Linked DNA regions of Homo sapiens. The protein of the gene in region 2 purifies or fractionates together with the protein of the main gene of each other region. This does not show direct contact. Each region holds a gene or a part of one and is shown on either strand. Other genes may lie near its edges. The genes, in order: MAP1A, TAS2R31 and MTMR4.

Region 1 (2,410 bases), on a different chromosome or scaffold from region 2:
CAAGGAGGCAGCTGCCGGCCGAAACACATCTGCAGAGAAGGAGCTTTCATCTCCTATCTCACCCAAGAGCCTCCAGTCTGACACTCCAACCTTCAGCTATGCAGCCCTGGCAGGACCCACTGTACCCCCAAGGCCAGAGCCAGGGCCAAGTATGGAGCCCAGCCTCACCCCACCTGCAGTTCCCCCCCGTGCTCCTATCCTGAGCAAAGGCCCAAGCCCCCCTCTTAATGGTAACATCCTGAGCTGCAGCCCAGATAGGAGGTCCCCATCCCCCAAGGAATCAGGCCGGAGTCACTGGGATGACAGCACTAGTGACTCAGAACTGGAGAAGGGGGCTCGGGAACAGCCAGAAAAAGAGGCCCAATCCCCAAGTCCTCCTCACCCCATTCCTATGGGGTCCCCCACATTATGGCCAGAAACTGAGGCACATGTTAGCCCTCCCTTGGACTCACACCTGGGGCCTGCCCGACCCAGTCTGGACTTCCCTGCTTCAGCCTTTGGCTTCTCCTCATTGCAGCCAGCTCCCCCACAGCTGCCCTCTCCAGCTGAACCCCGCTCGGCACCCTGTGGCTCCCTTGCCTTCTCTGGGGATCGAGCTCTGGCTCTGGCTCCAGGACCCCCCACCAGAACCCGGCATGATGAATACCTGGAAGTGACCAAGGCCCCCAGCCTGGATTCCTCACTGCCCCAGCTCCCATCACCCAGTTCTCCTGGGGCCCCTCTCCTCTCCAATCTGCCACGACCTGCCTCACCAGCCCTGTCTGAGGGCTCCTCCTCTGAGGCTACCACGCCTGTGATTTCAAGTGTGGCGGAGCGCTTCTCTCCAAGCCTTGAGGCTGCAGAACAGGAGTCTGGAGAGCTGGACCCAGGAATGGAACCAGCTGCCCACAGCCTCTGGGACCTCACTCCTCTGAGCCCAGCACCCCCAGCTTCACTGGACTTGGCCCTAGCTCCAGCTCCAAGCCTGCCTGGAGACATGGGTGATGGCATCCTGCCGTGCCACCTGGAGTGCTCAGAGGCAGCCACGGAGAAGCCAAGCCCCTTCCAGGTTCCCTCTGAGGATTGTGCAGCCAATGGCCCAACTGAAACCAGCCCTAACCCCCCAGGCCCTGCCCCAGCCAAGGCTGAAAATGAAGAGGCTGCGGCTTGCCCTGCCTGGGAACGTGGGGCCTGGCCTGAAGGAGCTGAGAGGAGCTCCCGGCCTGACACATTGCTCTCCCCTGAGCAGCCAGTGTGTCCTGCAGGGGGCTCCGGGGGCCCACCCAGCAGTGCCTCTCCTGAGGTCGAAGCTGGGCCCCAGGGATGTGCCACTGAGCCTCGGCCCCATCGTGGGGAGCTCTCCCCATCCTTCCTGAACCCACCTCTGCCCCCATCCATAGATGATAGGGACCTCTCAACTGAGGAAGTTCGGCTAGTAGGAAGAGGGGGGCGGCGCCGGGTAGGGGGGCCAGGGACCACTGGGGGCCCATGCCCTGTGACTGATGAGACACCCCCTACATCAGCCAGTGACTCAGGCTCCTCACAGTCAGATTCTGATGTCCCGCCAGAAACTGAGGAGTGTCCGTCCATCACAGCTGAGGCAGCCCTCGACTCAGATGAAGATGGAGACTTCCTACCTGTGGACAAAGCTGGGGGTGTCAGTGGTACTCACCACCCCAGGCCTGGCCATGACCCACCTCCTCTCCCACAGCCAGACCCCCGCCCATCCCCTCCCCGCCCTGATGTGTGCATGGCTGACCCCGAGGGGCTCAGCTCAGAGTCTGGGAGAGTAGAGAGGCTACGGGAGAAGGAAAAGGTTCAGGGGCGAGTAGGGCGCAGGGCCCCAGGCAAGGCCAAGCCAGCGTCCCCTGCACGGCGTCTGGATCTTCGGGGAAAACGCTCACCCACCCCTGGTAAAGGGCCTGCAGATCGAGCATCCCGGGCCCCACCTCGACCACGCAGCACCACAAGCCAGGTCACCCCAGCAGAGGAAAAGGATGGACACAGCCCCATGTCCAAAGGCCTAGTCAATGGACTCAAGGCAGGACCAAGTAAGTATATCATGAAACTTGGCAGAGAGTGTGGGTTAGGGCTGGGTGTGGGCTGGTCAGACTTCAGGAGTGGGACAGAGGGGAAGGTTGCCAAAAGGGTTCTACTTTTCCTCTACAATGAATCCTGGCTTGTCTCTACAGTGGCCTTGAGTTCCAAGGGCAGCTCTGGTGCCCCTGTATATGTGGATCTCGCCTACATCCCGAATCATTGCAGTGGCAAGACTGCTGACCTTGACTTCTTCCGTCGAGTGCGTGCATCCTACTATGTGGTCAGTGGGAATGACCCTGCCAATGGCGAGCCAAGCCGGGCTGTGCTGGATGCCCTGCTGGAGGGCAAGGCCCAGTGGGGGGAGAATCTTCAGGTGAGTAGCAAAGGACAC
Region 2 (3,085 bases):
ACTGTGTGCATTCTTTTCTAACAATAATTCTCATTGCTTTTTACTAAACATAAAATAGAAATTCATAATGGAATAAAACACCAAAGATACATCCTCATTATTGATTTAGAATTGAATGACTTTACCATCCAATAAATTCGAGGTTCAAGCAATGAATTCTAAGCACAATGTGGTGTATTCCTGTGGTTCAAATAACAATAGAAAAGAGCAATATTTATCCTGGGATAAGCTGTTACTTCTTAATAATTATAAATAGACATCATAAATTCTACAAATGAAATATAAAATACATGAATGAAATATACATGGCTTCAAAATTCTAAGAAATTTTTGTCATATTTTGTATAATTTGGCAGTTTGTATGAAAAAAACAGAAAAGAGCATGTTATTGTCAATGTTCTTAAGTTTTCATACACACATAAACACACACATATATATATTTTTTTTTCTAGACTAATATTAGGTCAAAGGCTTTTCTAGGTATACGTTGGGAAATTATTCATACACATACAGTATAGAAAAACCAGTAAGAAATATAAAATGTTTCATACACCACCAGTTTGTTTTCTGCTAGAAGACACACAATGCCCCTCTCATGAATCTATGGAGATGAAGGCTTCTCTCCTTTCACCCAGTACCTCACTTGCCGCAAAACTGAAAGAAAAGTCTGCTTTAGCTTCTTGTTTCCCCAAATCAGGATGAATGGGTGGATTGAAGGATAGCTGAATCTAATAGCTTTGCAGAACATGAAGACAGGTTTGTTTTCCAGACTCCCAAAACTCCAAACTGATATCATTATGGACAGAAAGTAAACGGCACATAACAAGAGGAAAAAGATCACAGTTTGCAAAGCTTTTATGTGGACCTTGGTGCTGGGATCTTGAGATCCTTTACCATGGAGCTGCATCTTCTTGAGATGTTTACACAGAGAACAGATTAACAGCAAAAAACATAGCAGGGTCAGAGTGAAGGGCACTAAGTTTCCTAGCGTGGTTACAGTCGCATCTGAAAGGTACACTGCACTCCTCAATTTGATCTTCCAAGTCAAGTTTCCTTCATATTCTTTTGTCCGTACAATCTCTTTCATGTTTATCACAAAAAGTTGACAAGCCAAAAATAGTAAAGGCCCCAACAGCATCACCAGAATGACACTCTTAACTCTCCTCTTTAAGTGAAGAAAAATAAGGTTGGAGAAATTGGCAATCTTGAGCAAATAAAATATGCTGAGGCTAGTAGCAAGCCAGTTGCTGAAATGGCCGGTTACTGCCCAGACATTATAAGCAGTAGTTCTTACTTCTACACTATAAAAAGCTGGATTAAACACAGTTGAATACCAATTTAATAATAATACCCAGAGCAAACCAACTCTGGAGACCGCCAGAGCAGTGAGAATCTGGTCAGCAAAAGAGATCTTTTGTCTCTTGACCCGCTCAATGGAATTTACCAATGCTATGAAGCCATTAGCAAAATTTCCAATAACAAATAGAACCACTACCACACTGGAAAAAATGATGGGTATAAAAGTTGTCATGTCTGAACAGACAAAAAAAAATTGTTTTAATGCTGGTGTTGTGTCCGGAGTTGGTTCCTGCAGGTGGGTTCGTGGTCTCCCTGACTTCAAAAATGGAGCCACCGACCTTCACGGTGAGTGTTGCTGCTCTTAAAGATGGCATGGACCCAAAGAGTGAGCAACAGCAAGGTTTATTGAGAAGAGAGAAAGGACAAAGCTTCCACCGGGAGGAAGGCGACCCAGGCAGGTTGCTGCTGCTGGCTGAAGCCATGAGCTTTTATTCCCTTATTTGTCCCCTCCCATTTTCCTTTTTTTGTCCTATCAGAGTGCCCTTTTTTCAATCCTCCCTGCCATTGGCTACTTTTAGGATCCTGTTGCTTGGTGTATTTTAGAGCGATTGGTGCATTTTACAATCCTCTTGCTAGCTACAGAGCGCTGATTGCTGTGGTTTTACAGTGCACTGTTTGGTGCATTTTACAATCCCCTTGCTAGCTACAGAAACGTTCTCCAAGTCCCCACTCGATTCAGAAAGTATAGCTCGCTTCATCTCTCAATGTAATATAACTGGGTGTGATTGCTTGAATATCCTGACCTTAAATTCTATATGCACCTGATTTGTGAATGTGCTGTGACATTCTTTTTACTTTTAATTGTTGTGACCAGTGTCAAGCCAGAAATAACCATGGCATGTTAACTGATGAGTTCAATGATCTCTTTATGGAAAACATTCTTATTTTCAAACAACTCAAATTAACTCATTCATTCACTGTCTGTTCTTGTTATAGGCTGGAATTATTCACACTGAAATTGACGTGAAACCTGAATCCTCATTTGCTAGTACGCAAATAGGGACATATTCACTTTCAGTGTTTGCAATTTTTCCTTGTGTAACCTCTCCATCATTTATCTTTAGTGACTTCAGTTGTTAGGGAAGTTTTGTAACTCAATATATATATCATATAGTAAATATCTAAATTCTCAAAGGGAGCTTGGTCATAACTAAGATCATCACCAATGCGGACTTTTTTAAATCACAGATTTAAATACACAGAATCCTAACTGCTTTTATCAAAGGCATCTCAGATTTTCTTGAGAACCACAGGCAGGCCACTACTCCATAAGATCTGGTTGCTGCTAACACTTTCGTATAACTTCATTATTCACAAACTCATAAATATGCACACAAATATACACATGTGCACACCACTTATGAATGGAACAAATTATTTTCTTGTAATTTCCAAAATAAAAAATGAGTTTCCAAGAGGCTGTGCAGATGAAATTAGTCCTATTTTCCCACTCAGGGTTTTCAGCCCATGAATAATATTTATTTATCAAAAACATTATCTCTAATTCTTAGGACTTGGTAAAGTTTCTCTCAAGTCTAATGTTTAAATATTATTATAAAAAATATTTAGCAATTTTATAAGAATTCCTCAGTACCAGACCCTTTGATATATAATCCTGCAGTATCCTATCACAGGAAGACTGACTACCTTGCCCCTGAACTTGGAGTTCAATCATTTCACTTACTTTGATAAACAGAAAATTACTACAGTTTGCATAGAGATTTGA
Region 3 (3,658 bases), on a different chromosome or scaffold from region 2:
AAATGGCCTCCCTACTTCCCAGCCCCACTGCCTCACCTATACACAACCACGGGAATCCGCTTCCAGGAGCGGAAGGAAGCCACGTTCTCCAGCTCTTTGTCAGTGATCCACACAGGAACCAGCAGCTTCTGGGGGTAACTGGGGCACAATCTGAGAAGAGACCAGGTGGGGGTCACTGCACTGGGTCTAAAACATGTGATGACAGGATCCCTGGGGATGGCTTTGTGGGAAGAGAAACCATGAGCCTTCCTCCCTCTCAGACTCAGAAGCTGTGCCCACCACACTTTATCCAAACACGGAAGTAGTTTGGTGTGGAAGGTGTTTTGGTCCCCAACCCTCTCACTTGTAGTTGCTGTTGATGTGTGAGACTCTCCAGACGTTCTGCAGGTCAAAGCCCATCCTTGCAAGCTCCGCCTCCTGTCGACAACGTATGTGCTCACCTGCAACAGAGCCCCCACGATGGTTAGCTTCCCAGAGCACCAATGTGCAGGAGTGGAGGAGGGATGAGAACTAAGGGGTAAGAAGCAGCCTCCCAAAGAAAATAGACTGGCCTCACCTGGCTGACATAGGTGAGTGTGCTGGTCCTCCTCGGTCAGCCCCAGGCACCAGGCATGGTAGGCAAAGGCAAAGAGGTCTTCAGGCTTGGCAGGTCTTGCTGTGGCTCGGCTTAGCCGTGAGAGCCACTCTTGGCACTGCTTAAAAGTGGAGAAGTGGCACCTGCCAGGCAAGAAGCCACAGGCCTAGGTGAGGCAAAGTGCAGTTGTGCCATGGGGCTATCAGGGCCAAAAACACAGCCACAGGAAGGCTGTGAGGAGAGAAGGCTGCAAAGCAAGAGGTAAAGCAGTGGGGACCCAGGGTGGGGGGACGAGGGACACTGGCCAACACCCAACAGAAGTTGTCTCTTGTGATAATTCTCTTCCCAAGAACTCCTGTGTTTGAGGCATACTTATCCTCTCGAATGGGGCGCTACTGTTTCTCGTATCAAATCTAAATGCTACCATGTGGCCCTGAACGTCTGCACTCCTTGTCCCTACCCTAATGGACCAGTGTTATCTCCCATGACTCCCTAACTCAAACCTTCTGCTTCAGGCGGGAAGTTCTGCTCACATCCTTCCCATCTCCTTGGTTTATCTTCTGCTTGATAATGTCTCCTCTCTGCCTAGCCACATCCTACTGATGCTTTGAAGATAGTTTCAGTCTCACCTCTTCCTTGAAGCCTTCCCAGCCTACTCTATTCCAGAAACTCCTTCCTCTCTTGATTCTTAATGTGCTTGGAATATATATATATACCTTTTTTTTTTTTTTTGAGAGAGGGTCTTGCTCTTGCTCTGTCACCCAGGCTGGAGTGTAGTGGCACGATCACAGCTCCCTGCAGCCTCGACCTCCTGGGCTCAGGCAATCCTCACAAATCAGTCCCCTGAGTAGCTGAGACCATAATTGTGCACCACCACGTCTGGCTAACTTTTTAAATTCTTCATAGAGACAGGGTCTCTCTATGTTGTCCAGGCTGATCTTGAACTCCTGGGCTCAAGCGATCCTCCTCCCTCGGCCTCCCAAAGTACTAGGATTACAGGTATGTGCCACTGTGCCTGGCCTACTTGGAGTACTAAGCAACACATTTTCCCATAGCATATTGCCACATGTTAAATCTTCTTCCAGCAGCTAGAGTTTAGCCTCCTTGAAGGGAAGGGCAATGTGAATGCTCCTTCTGAATGCCCCACAGACCTGAGCACATGGTAGGCTCTAAAGTAGGTATCCTTTTAATAAACCTTGGAGTCATCCAGATTCCTCTTTCTTTCACTTCAAATCTGTCAGCAAATCTTCTCATCTCCACCTTCAAAATACACCCAGAATCTGAATGCTTCTCACCGCTTTGGCTGCTACCACCTCAGACAGGCCACCATGATCTCTCATCTGGGTAACTGCAATAGCTTCCTAACTAGTCTCCCAGTTTTTGCTTTTGCTCTTGCCCCCATTCTCTTTCATCTAGTCTCAATATAGCAGCCAGTGTGATTCTATGAAACATTAATCAGATCACATCACTCCTTTGCTCAAAATCCTCCAGTGGTTTCTCAGTTCCCTCAAAGTAAAAGCCAGTCTTCATGACAGCCAAAGTGTCTGACACCCGGCTTTGTTCTCAGGTCATATAACCCACTACCCTCACCCACACGTGCTCTACTCCAACAACACCAGCCTCCCTGCCAGTCTCCCAATATGCAGGCACACACCCACCTCAAGGCCTTTGCACTTGCCGTTCTCTGTCTCTGGCACACTCTTCCACCAAATAGCCACATGGCCACTTTCTTCAAGTCTTGACTCGACTGCCACCTTTTCGGTGCAGCTTCTCTGATCACTTTTGTTTTTTTGAGACAGGGTCTCACTCTGTCATCCAGGCTGGAGTGCAGTGGTGTAATCACAGCTCACTGCAGCCTCGACTTCTCAGGCTCAAGAGGTCCTCCTATCTCAGCCTCTTGAGTAGCTGGGACTACAGGCATGCATCACCACGCCTGGCTAATTTTTTATATTTTTAGTAGAGATGGGGTCTCGTCCTGTTGCCCAAGCTGATCTTGAACTCCTAAGCTGAAGCGATCTCCCCACGCATCACCACACCTGGCTAATTTTTTCTATTTTTAGTAGAGATGGGGTCTCGCTATGTTGCCCAGGCTGATCTTGAACTCCTAAGCTGAAGGGATCTTCCCACCTTGGCCACCCGAAGTGCTGGTATTACAGGCGTGAACCACCGTGCCCAGCCTGATTGTTTTACAATCTTCACCCTCATAGCACTCCTTATTCCCTTTCCCTGCTTTATTTTTTTCCTTTACACTTACTATCATTTCACAAATTTTACTTATTACTTACGGTTGGTATCTCCTCATTGGAATGTAAGCTCTCTGAGGCGGCAAAATTTTGTCTATTTGTTCCCTGCTGTATCCCCAGGGCTTAAAACAGGCTGGCATTGAGTAGGGTACTCAATACATGTATATCAAATGAATAAATAAATAAACCAACAATAATATGAGTGCTCTGTGCCAGATATTGTCCTCGGTGCTTTCATACACATACACATTATCTCACTTAATCCTTACGATGACTCCATGAACTAGGCATTACCCCCATTTTTTCAGGTCAAGATCCTATGGGTCAGTAAACTGACCTCCCAACCCAGAACATGGTCTTCACCTTTTCTTCCAACTGGGGAAAGTGAGGCAGGATCTTTCCTCTCTTGCACCAGAGAAACCCTGCAGCACAGAGAACTGGACAAGACTAGGGCCAGGGGACCTGAGTGAGGCTCCGTTGTTCTCACCTCACCACTTTGGAGTCCTTGCAGGAAATGTGCAACTGGAACATATCACGGCTCTCCACACTGTCAATCATCCGGAGGGGGACCTGTAGAGGAAGGGCAAACTGAAGCTCAGACTCCCCACTGGGTACCACTCCTCACCCTCACCCTAGCGTAGGCACTAATGTATCAATAGCAGGAAGGAAACCAACATTTACTGAGGGTCTGTTAAGCACCTGGTAACTGTACGGAGTCCTCTGCATATGTGATCCCAATTAATGATCCCAATAACGTTGCACAGCAGGTGCTTTCAGCCCATATTACGAGGAGAAAAATCAAGCCTCAGTTAGGTGACTTGACCAAGGTCACCCAGCTGGT

Evidence for each region.
Region 1: the proteins of TAS2R31 (region 2) and MAP1A purify together in Homo sapiens (affinity purification with mass spectrometry; one large-scale study listed by BioGRID and IntAct). This does not show direct contact.
Region 3: the proteins of TAS2R31 (region 2) and MTMR4 purify together in Homo sapiens (affinity purification with mass spectrometry; one large-scale study listed by BioGRID and IntAct). This does not show direct contact.

What each region holds. Positions count from the first base shown.
Region 1 is NC_000015.10:43,527,479-43,529,888, forward strand, and holds part of MAP1A (microtubule-associated protein 1A), read left to right. Parts: coding exon 1-2,030; intron 2,031-2,171; coding exon 2,172-2,392; intron 2,393-2,410. UniProt on the Homo sapiens protein: Structural protein involved in the filamentous cross-bridging between microtubules and other skeletal elements.
Region 2 is NC_000012.12:11,029,805-11,032,889, forward strand, and holds TAS2R31 (taste receptor type 2 member 31), read right to left. Parts: upstream 1,604-3,085; 5' UTR 1,532-1,603; coding exon 602-1,531; 3' UTR 583-601; downstream 1-582. UniProt on the Homo sapiens protein: Receptor that may play a role in the perception of bitterness and is gustducin-linked. May play a role in sensing the chemical composition of the gastrointestinal content.
Region 3 is NC_000017.11:58,508,125-58,511,782, forward strand, and holds part of MTMR4 (phosphatidylinositol-3,5-bisphosphate 3-phosphatase MTMR4), read right to left. Parts: intron 3,388-3,658; coding exon 3,305-3,387; intron 718-3,304; coding exon 557-717; intron 441-556; coding exon 344-440; intron 151-343; coding exon 37-150; intron 1-36. UniProt on the Homo sapiens protein: Lipid phosphatase that specifically dephosphorylates the D-3 position of phosphatidylinositol 3-phosphate and phosphatidylinositol 3,5-bisphosphate, generating phosphatidylinositol and phosphatidylinositol 5-phosphate.